Regions from separate parts of the Homo sapiens genome. Here region 2 is linked to region 1. The links come from fine-mapping of genetic effects on gene expression. A gene starts in region 1. The other region holds a variant in brackets. All regions are shown on one strand. Distances are from middle to middle.

Evidence for each region. PIP is the estimated chance that this variant, and not a neighbour inherited with it, causes the effect. A credible set is the group of variants that fine-mapping cannot tell apart.
Region 2: its variant is the best candidate, but not a certain one, in a credible set for the expression of CALN1 in nucleus accumbens (GTEx, PIP 0.66).

Annotation. Positions count from the first base shown.
Region 1 is chr7:72,409,699-72,415,076 of GRCh38, reverse strand. CALN1 (calneuron 1) reads left to right here and starts at 2,739. Exons shown (of 7, transcript NM_031468.4): 1 at 2,739-3,019.
Region 2 is chr7:72,137,144-72,142,521 of GRCh38, reverse strand. The region is part of intron 3 of CALN1 (calneuron 1); the gene reads left to right. Among named protein-coding and RNA genes, the nearest start is that of CALN1, 270 kb to the left of the region's middle. The variant T/C (reference allele first, on the strand shown) is at 2,344.

The DNA.
Region 1 (5,378 bases):
GGACTCCTTTCCTGGCTTGCAGACAGCTGCCTTCTTGCTGTGTCCTCACATGGCAGAGATAGAGATCCCTCTCTTCCTCTTATAAAGCCACAGTCCAATTGGATTAGGGTTTCACCCTTAAAACCTCATTTAAAATGACCTCCCCAAACCCCTATCTTCAGATATAGTCACATTGGGGTTGAGGGCTTCAACGTAAGGATTTGGAGGAGGGACACAATTCACTCCATAGCATATGTGGAATTCAGGATATATATTTGGGGGCTGGGAAGGGAAATTAAATGACCAGTGGAGTCTTGGGCCATCCAAGCATGTCACAAAAATGGAAGGAAACCATTGCCATGAAATGGATGAACTTGGCAACAGAGAGGGGTACAGAGCTCATGTTCCCCCATCTACAGATACTGCTTCTCAGTCGTCCTGGGAGAAATACAGCTTATGGCAAATTCAGGACATCCTCCCTTCAAACATTTGCTTGAATTATCCAGACTGGGGGCCAACACTGGACTTCCAATCTCTGCTGTTCTGTAACGTCTCTGGGAAGTTCTGTGCTGCCATGCTAGTGTTAGGGTGGAGTGGGGAGTGAGTTCAGGGAGGCTGGTGTGAGGGTCTTGCCACCACCCATCCCAGGACCCCTGGTCTGGCATCAAGAAGGCACTGGCCTGCAAGAGAAGCTGTGTGACCCTGGGAAGCCACTCAGCCTCTCTGTCTCGCTCTACCCAATTGTGAACTAGGGGTTGATCAGGTCAGTTTCTTTTGTAGGTCACTCTTCATGTTGGTAGATAATTTTAAGCCCTGGTTAAGGACACTGCTCTGTAGTAGGTGCACAGAACGAAGGATTCGGCCCCAGGACTCAAGGAGGCCCATGGGCCTCTGGCTCCAGCATGGGTCTCTTGAGCTTCCCGCCAAACTCTAGGATCCTGGATCTTCCCACGGTCTGCCTCCAATGAGTGAATCCGTCTCATACCTCACTGCTCCTGCTTGGCGAGGGTGATGGGAAGATACGGTATTAGTGGGTAATTAAGTTATTAGCTGCCAAAGCTTAATTGCTCTCAGGAGTATTTTAATTGTAGCAGGGGACTCAAAAACAGAAAGCCTTGGAGACAGCAGACATCATGGAAACAGAAGGAAGGGGGAGTATATGTGAGGGTGCATGTATGGGAGTGCGGTGTGTACGTGTGTATGTATGTAAGAGTGTGTGTGTGCATGTGTATACGAGTGTGTGTGATGTGTGTGCATGTTTGTGTATGTGCCATGCATGTGAATGCATAAGTGGGAATGTTTGCGAGTGGTGCGTGTCTGTGTAGTGTGTTTGTTATGTGTATGTGTGTGCATATGTGCTGTGCGTGTGTGTATAAGTGTAAGTGTATATGTGTATGTGTAGTGTGAGTGTGAATGTATATGTGTATGAGTGTGTGCATAACTGTGAGTTTATATGCGTATGTGTAGTGAGAGTGTATATATGTATGTGTGCATGTGTTAGTGTGTATATGTATGAGTGTGTGTGTGGTGTGCATGAGTGCATGCATGTATGAGCTTGTGAGTGTGCGTGTTTATGAGTGTATCTGATGTGTGAGTTTGTGTCCTTATGTGAGCATGTGTGGTATGAGTATGCACGTGTGTCCATGTGTGGTATGTGAGTCTATGTGAGTGTACGTGTGTGTAAGAATGTGCATGTGTGGTGTGCATGTATGAGTATGTTCGTGGGTGTGTGTGGATGAGTGTATGTAAATGTATGTGTGGATGTGAGTGTATGTTAGTGTGTGTATGTATACGTGTGTGTGTACATGTGGTGTGTGTGTGCATGTGTGTGTGAATGTATATGTGTGTATGTGTGGTGTGTGTGAGTGTATATGTGTGTATGAGTGTGTGTGTGTGAGTGGGTGGGCACAAGTGTCAGTGTGTACATATGAGTGTATGTGTAAGCATGTAAGTGAGCATACGTGTAAGAGTGTATGTGTGCATATGTGTCTAACAGAACCTGCCTCTGTGATCTCTGCCAGGGCGTCCATCAGTGCAAACCCCCCGGGTGAGCCCAGGTCTGAAGGTGGCCACCAGCCACTGGCCTACTCCAGGTGGGCTTAGCGTGAGCCAGCACAGCCATCAGAGAACCTTCTCGGAGCTAGACCAGCTGCCCCAGGAGAAAGAGGGTAACCCTAAATATTATCCTACCAGGAAAGCCAGGCCTGGGGCTGTGGCCTCCATGGTCTGGGTGCTTCCTTTTGGAGGTGGGAGATGGATTCTCCAGGGAGAGCTGGGCCACCAGATATTTCTCTGTCCTGTGGCTTGACTGCTTCTAGAAACTTCCTGGGCTGAAAGCAAGGGACTTTGACAAGGGCTTGATTTGGAATGTGGGGCATTTTTATTGTTCCAGTTTGTTTTTCCCAAAGCAGGTTCCATGGGGGAAGGGTGAGGGGACAAGGGCTGGGGCTGCTCCTCCAGCAGTGGCCCCTGGGTGTGAGAGGTGAAGCCAGCTGGGCTTCTGGGTCAGTGGGGACTTGGAGAACTTTTCTGTCTAGCTAGAGGATTGTAAATGCACCAATCGGTGCTCTGTGTCTAGCTAGAGGATTGTAAATGCACCAGTCAGCATTCTGTAAAAATGGACCAATCAGCACTCTGTAAAATGGACCAATCAGCACTCTGTAAAATGGACCAATCAGCACTCTGTAAAATGGACCAATCAGCAGGACATGGGCAGGGCTGAATAAGAGAATAAAAGCTGGCTCCCCGAGCCCGCTGGGGAAGCTCGCTGGGGTGCTATCCGCTTGAGTTTGTGTTTTTTTCTTTCCTGCTTCTTAATAAAGCTTACTGCTTACTCTGGGTCCGCGCCACCTTTAAAGCTCACGGCCGCGGTCTGCGTCTTCGTTCTTGAAGTCAGCAAGACCGCAAGCCCACCGGGAGGAGCAGACGACTCCGGACGCGCCATCTTTAAGAGCTGTAACACTCACCGCGAGGTCCGTGGTTTTATTCTTAAAGTCGGCGAGACCAACAACCCAGCAGAAGGAATAAATTCCGCACACAGGTGGGCACAGAAACTAAAGAGCATGGTGGGCTCAGCTGCATGCAGTTCCCAGCTGGGCCAGGTTTGGGAGCCATCTGGGTACTTTCATAGTCTGGAGACAAGTTCCGGATTATGGTGGTGTTTTAATCTATGATTTTTTCTTTATCGGTTTATGATACCTCTCTAAAAGAGAGTTGCTTCATCAACTATTTGGTTATCCTGGAATATAATCTGTATGGAAAAAGCAGGACAATTGTTTGGTTCTTTTCTTATTACTTTAAAAGAGTAATTACTTTATTCCTTAGCAATTACATTCATGTCAATTTTCAGGATAATGAGTTGTACCATATTTGGTGATTGGCTGTGTCTTCCAGTTAGTTTCTCTGTCATTTGGCATCATTGAGAACTTATCCACTTTTAGGCCTGACAAGACTTTTCGTATTTCCTCCCATGGAGCTGATTACTTAGCCGGAAGTGGTATTTTGAGACTACAATTTGAGTGCTCATTGCCTGAGTTTTATTACCTTGACGTCTTTTCAGTGACACAACTGATACGTCCATATTTTTTTAAAGACAAAAATAAATTGAGTTCACAGTGATATTTTTATTCAAACTAGATTTCAGAGTTTTTACTTAACCTTAAAATTGTTATATTTACAGCTCTTTTCTCTAACATAGAAAATCTTGATTCCTAATGATGTTACATGAATCTCTTTTGTATGATTTCTTTGTGGTTCTTTTTGTCCTGAGACTTAGGTCTCACGTGGAAAGCTCAGTCAAAATATTATGTTCTAAAGTAACTTGAAAAAAACGGTTTTCTCTGTAGTTAAGCCATTAACTTGAAATACAGTTGTGTTTGCATGTTTCAGTTCATTTTCTATTTTAAGGAATTGCTTTGCTTTTTCCTTTTGATAGTTTTTTTCAAATCTGTAAAACCTTTATGTTTGCTCTTATAAATAGGCTCTGCTCATACATTATCTTCTGTTTCTACACATGTCCTGTTAAATTCTGTATGTTGGTCTTATTCTAATGCTTTACTAAATTCACCTATTATTTGTAATCGTTTTTTCATGAATTCTTTGGGATTTTCCATACATATAATCATATCACCTTAAAATAACTTTATTTCTTTTCCCATCTTATGCCTCTAATTGTCTAATCATGTTGGTTAATGCCTACAATACAGTGTTAATAGTAGCAGAGATAGTAAACATCCTTGTATTTTTTCTGATTTTAGCAATAAAGTTTCTAGTGCTTCTTGGAAAGTAAGAAGGTAGGGTGCTGGCTCGTGAGCTGATACGGAGGTGTGTGTATTTATGTTCAGGAAATATATATAGTTCCCTATTTTACTCTGATTTTCAATGTTAATTTAATTGTGAGCCGTTCATAGGGTCTTGGTTTTCATTTTGAAGAACCAGGGTTTAGGGTGTTTTGCTTATGCGAATTTAAGCCAGGACATGAAGGGACATTAGGGCTCCTGAGAAGTCTCACTTGCAGAAGAATTGAGCTGATTTGAAAAGCTCATTTCAGTTTTCAGATGTGGACTTAAAATTTTGGCTTTGCTTGTGTATATATTTTATTTCCGTGATATCTAATTGGTTTTGGGCAGAGATAGGGAGAAAACAACTTTGATTTTACATCATGTAGAAGGATTTCGCTTTTGCATCTTTCAAGGAATTCCATGGACATTTTCTACGTCCTAGATTGGCAGTTTTAGATTTCTTTTTTGTGCTTTTGAATACATCTTAGTAGTAAGATATTCAAAATGATGGCCAACAATCACCTTTGCAGAGTCAGTAACACAAGTGCAGTGATGAGACTTCATTGCTCATAAGCAGTTAAGTAGATTTGACAACCTCTCTTACATATTTAAGAGCTCCAGGCTCTCATGTTCCAGCAAATGCAGGGCTTAGCTTTGGGGCAGGCTGGAGCTCACACTCTGCCCTGTCGTCTTTTTTGTCAGCAACTCGTACCCCATTACACACCATATGGCATGACCCGCACAATGGAACATTTTGTCCAAAAGATATCTTCAAGAAAGAATTATGTTCAGTTATAACAAAAATAAATTCTTTTTGTGGGTTAAATGTGGTGCATCTTTGCAGGGTTTTAGAGGAAAGGACCAAGGGGAAAACCATTATCAAGCATTACAGGGAAAAAACTGATTATAATGTGGCCCTCAACAATTGTAAAATCTAGCAGAGACCACAAGATGCAAAAGAAAAGACTGTAACTTGATGCCCAACGTGGTTAAAAGGGAGGGAACGTTCCTTGGTGATTCTTTGAATTGGGTCTTCGAGTAACAGCCTGGGAACCACTGTTCCATGGGGTCCCAGAGGCTAAAAACCATTTAACCCATGCTTATGAATTATTTATGCCC
Region 2 (5,378 bases), 270 kb after region 1:
GCAGGCAGGCCTCCTTGAGCTGCAGTGGGATCCACCCAGTTCGAGCTTCCTGGCCACTTTTTTTACCTACTCAAGCCTCAGCAATGGCAGGTGCCCCTCCCCCAGCTCGCTGCCGCGTTGTAGTTCGATCTCAGACTGCTGTGCTAGCAATGAGTGAGGCTCCATGGGTGTAGGATCCTCTGAGCCAGGCACGGAATATAATCTCCTGGTGTGCCGTTTGCTAAGACCGTCAGAAAAGCACAGTATTAGGGTGGGAGTGACCCGATTTTCCAGGTGCCATTTGTCCCTTCTTCCCTTGGCTAGGAAGGGGAATTCCCTGACCCCTTGTGCTTCCCAGGTCAGGCGATGCCTCACCCTGCTTCGGCTCATGCTTGGTGCACTGCACCCACTGTCCTGCACCCACTGTCTGACAATCCCCAGTGAGATGAACCCGGTACCTCAGTTGGAAATGCAGAAATCACCTGTCTTCTGCGTCGCTCACGCTGGGAGCTGTAGACTGGAGCTGTTCCTATTCGGCCATCTTGGAACCACCCCTGCAGATCATATTTCAACCTGAAATGTGGAGGGGACAAGCATCCAAAACAGATCACTGTGCAGGTGTAATCAAGCCTCATGTTTTGACATAGGGCCCATCTGTAGAAAGTGGTGATGTTGGCCCGGCACAGTGACTCACACCTGTAATCCCAGCACTTTGGGAGGCCAAGATGGGAGGATCACCTGAGGTCAGGAGTTGGAGACCAGCCTGACCAACATGGTGAAACCCTGTCTCTACTAAAAATACAAAAATTAGCCAGGCATGGTGATGCATGCCTGTAATCCTAGCTCCTCAGGAGGCTGAAGCAGGAGAATCGCTTGAACCCAGGAGACGGAGGTTGCAGTGATCTGAGATCACACCATTGCATTCCTACCTGATTGACAAGATGGAAACTCCGTCTTGAAAAAAAAAATGGTGATGTTAGCATCATCTGAGGGTGGAGTTTTGAGCCCTCGGACACAAAAGGTTGTTTTGGGACACGTGCATAGGCCTAGCCGAAGGGTCGGTGGTCTCAAAGTGCCATCACACCCAGGTAATTTTTGTATTTTTAGTACAGACTGGGTTTCACCATGTTGCCAGGGCTGGTCTCGAACTCTTGACCTCAGGTGATCCACTTGCTTCAGCCTCCCAAAGTGCTAGGATTGCAGGTGTGAGCCACTGCACCTGGCCTTTTTTTCTTTTTCTTTTCTTTTTTTAAGACAGGATCATGCCCTGTCACTTAGGCTGGAGTACAGTGGTGCAATCATGGCTCACTGCAACCTCCTGGGCTCAAGTGATGCTCCCACCTCAGCCTCCCAAATTTCTGGAATTACAGGTATGAGCTACCGCATCCAGTGAGATTAATTTTTCTATTGGATAATTGTTGCTACTTTTCTCAGGACGCAGAGAGGCTGGAGCCAGTGACCTTGGCCTTGGGTTGAGGGACAGCACAGCACCAGTTCATGCTTAGCCCATGGAGTTGCTATAGCTTGAGTCTGCCATGGTCCACACTAGGAGGCTAGTATCTTCTACCTTTTGTTTTAGAGACATTCACAATGGGGCTGTCTTCCTCCTCCCAGGTGGGGAACCAGCTGCCACAGGACTGCAGAGCAAGGCCCCAGCGCCCTGGGCTGGACAGGCAGGCAGCCCTGATGTACTTGCCAGCTTTCCCCCAGGACTGTGCATGAGAGAGGCAGTGACACATTCTCTCCTGTCCTGGAAGTTGATGAGCTCCGATAGGAGGTTGTCTTGAACACTCATTTGGTTCCAGGGCCCTGCCAAGGCCACCCCAGTATCTGGGTACAGGACCAGCTCACACCACTCAAGAGCCAACCAGGGTTGCCTCTGTTCATTCATTTATCCTACCATTCAACAGACATAGGCCACATAGGCCCAGACTGGCCACACCCTGCCTGCCAAGGTTGGGGTGTAATCCCTGAGGGGGCTTCTGCCCTTGTCTTCCTTTGATAGGAGGGAGAGGGAAATACTTTCAGCAAGATTTCCTCTGAGTGGGTCTCACTGTAGAGCTGCGTGTGCTAAAATTGTCTGGGCAGGTCCACAGGAGCAGCAGAAGGAGGTGGGACTCTGGTTCTGGCTGCTTGCTTCCTTCATTCGCTTCTTCCATCCTCCCTCCCTCCCTCCCTCCCTCCCTCCCTCCCTCCCTCCCTTCCTTCCTTCTCCCTTTCTCTGTTCCTCTCTTTCTTCTCTCTCTCTCTCTCTCTCTCTCTCTCTTATTTTGAGACAAGGTCTCACTCTGTCACCCAGGCTGGAGTGAAGTTGTGCAATCATGACTCACTGCAGCCTTGAACTCCTGGGCTCAAGTGATCCTC[T/C]TGCCTCAGTCTCCCTAGTAGCTGGGACTGTAAGTGTTCAGCACCACTCCCAGCTAATTTTTAAATTTATTGCAGAGACAGGGTGTTACTTTGTTGCCCAGGCTGGTTTCAAACTCCTGGCCTGAAGCAATCCTCCCACCTCAGTCTCCCGAATTGCTGAGATTACAGGACACTTCTGAGCATGCTTTCCTAACCTCCCCCAACAGTGGTGAAATATTCCAACGAGATTACAGAGGAGAGGGGCCTCTTCTCCCTCTTCCTAAAGAGGGCTTAGTAGGAGACCTGACTCAGTAAATCTGAAAGAATAAATAGGTGTTTGTCATTTGCAAAGAGAGATAAGGGAAGTAGCAACATAGTATATAGTCCTGAAAGTGAAGGCCTGCTCCAAATACAGCCATCAGCTCTGTAGGGTGGGTTAAGGAGGGGCAGAGCACTGAGGTTCCTAGAGGGTGGAGGTGACCGAGGAGCTTAGAAGAGGATGGACATGGCTGAGGAGCTTAGAAGAGGGTGGACATGGCCGAGGTGCTTAGAAGAAGGTGGGCATGGATGAGAGGCTTAGAAGAGGGTAGACTTGACTGAGGTGCTTAGAAAGGGGTGTGGCCGATGTGGGTAGAGGAGGGTGGGCATGGCTGAGGGGGTGGACATGGCCAAGGTGCTTAGAAGAGGGTGGGCATGGCTGAGGTGGGTAGAAGAGGGGTGGGTGTGGCTGAAGTTGGTAGAAGAGGGTGGGCGTGGCTGAGGTGGGTAGAAGAGGGTGGGCGTGGCTGAGGTGCTTAGAAGAGGGTGGGCGTGGCTGAGATGAGTAGAAGACCCAGGGTGGGCATGGTGGAGGTGGGCAGAAGAGGTTGGGCGTGGCTGAGGTGGGTAGAAGAGGGTGGGTGTGGCCGAGGTGCTTAGAAGATGGTAGGCATGGGGCTGAGGTGCTTAGAAGAAGGTGTACATGGCCCAGTTCTGGAAGCGCCTGGGACATCAAAGAGGGGATGGATGTGACCTTGCCGGATGCCCATGGGCTCTGGCCTGGTGTGGAATAGCAACCTGCTTGTTGAATATATGAGTGAATGGGAGCCAGTGAGAAATTTGAAGCTGAAGCAAAGCGTGATTAGACGTGATGTCTTTGACACACCACTCTGGATGCTGGAGGTACCATCAACAAGAAGGGAAGGAGTCAAGGATGAATTTTTGAGATTGAACGCTAGATGATGGCATTGCAAGCTTTCGAATGCGTTCGGGTAGAAGGAGCAGAATGACCAAATATTTTGTTTTTCATTGAATGTGTGGGCAGTCCTGGCCCATTACTCCAGAGGTAAAATGTGTTCCAGCATGTTTTTCCATTGAGATAACTTCCTTTTCCATTATGGTGACAGTTCTGAAAGAAAGGGTAAGGGCGGGGATTGTGGGGGGACCCAGGGGAGAGAGGCCGACCAATGGTTCTTTCATGTGCTGTTTTATCAGGCATATTGTCGTGAAACCAATTTTCATGTTGAAATGGCTTTTCTTCCCGTAAACAAATTGCTTTTTATGTTGTTGAATGGGATGGCAGGCAGCCTCTTTGAAGATTAGCTAACTCAGTTCTCAGCCGGTGCTAAAATACGCACCTTCAGAGCCCAGCTAAGGGCAGTCCCCGTCTCCTTTGCTCCTCACAGCTGAATTGGTTAATACAAGTAGGAGAAAAGAGTTTCCCGAGGAATCAGGTGTAAGAACAGAAGCTTTGAATTTTGTGAAACAAGATTTCTACTCTGAGGCTTCAGATGGCGTCGGGAAAATGCTCCCCAGCATGGAGAGAACACTTGTATTCGAGCCTCCAGTTTACTCATTGTTGGTTTCATTTTGTAGAATAACATTTTGTTCTTCTTAAAAGAGCCAGACACCTGGAGACGTTTAAAAAAAAAAATCCAAAATAAAAATACATGATCATCTAGAATTAGCATCATTTGATGATAATTCCATCTTTACATGTCATATATTTCCTTTATGTCTTTTTCCCTTAGGCACATGTTTTGACAGGTTAAGCCATATTACACATATAGTTTTATATACTGATTTCTTAAGAAAACATATTTGCTCATGTCATTTACTAAATGTGGTTTTTGAATGTGTGTAATATTTCACCACATGGATATAATTAAGTTGCCATCCCATAGTCTATTTTCATTTTACTATTTTACTTTAAATAATTTCAAAAATAGCAGAAAGTTGCATGAACAGTACAAAGAAATCCTATATGTCTTTCACCCAGATTTCCTGATTGTAGACATTGGAGCACATTTCCGTATCATTCTCTCTCTCTCTCAAATAGATATGCTATATTTATATCATTTATACTAAAATTTGTTCTTTTTCTAAACTTTTTTACAGTAAGCAGCAGGCGTGATGTCCTCCACTGTTGAATATGCTAGAGTATATTTTTCACAAAGACGCTACAGCATAAGCATACTATAACCATCAGAATAAGAAAACTTAACATCATATACCACCACCTAATCCACAGACTCTATTCAAATTTCCCCAGTTATCCAAATAATTTCTTTTACAGCTAAATCATTCAATCCAGGATCATACTGGCATACCACATTTTATACTTCACTTTATTGCACCTTGCAGATACTGTGTTTTTTTGTTTTGTTTTGTTTGTTTGTTTTTTACAAATTAAAGGTTTGTGGCAACCCTGTGGTTGGGCAAGTCTGTCAGTATCATTTTTCTAAGAGCATGTGCTCACTTCGTGCCTCTGGGTCACATTTTGGTGATTCCAACAAATATTTCAATCTTTTTCATTATTTGCTTTCATTATTATATCTGTTAGGATGATCTGTGTGACAGAGCAGGAGCATCGCCATCTTGAACAAAACACCACCGTTGTAAGTTCTCTTTAAAAACCACCTAAATCCAGCCCCAAAACATCAGCCTAATGGCTAATGTCAGCATAACTAGAAACATCCCAACCCTAAGATAAACCCCTCTCTGACCAGAAACATACCAACCCTGAGATAGGCTCCCCTCCGACCAGAGACACTCCAACCCTGCAATAAACTTTCCTT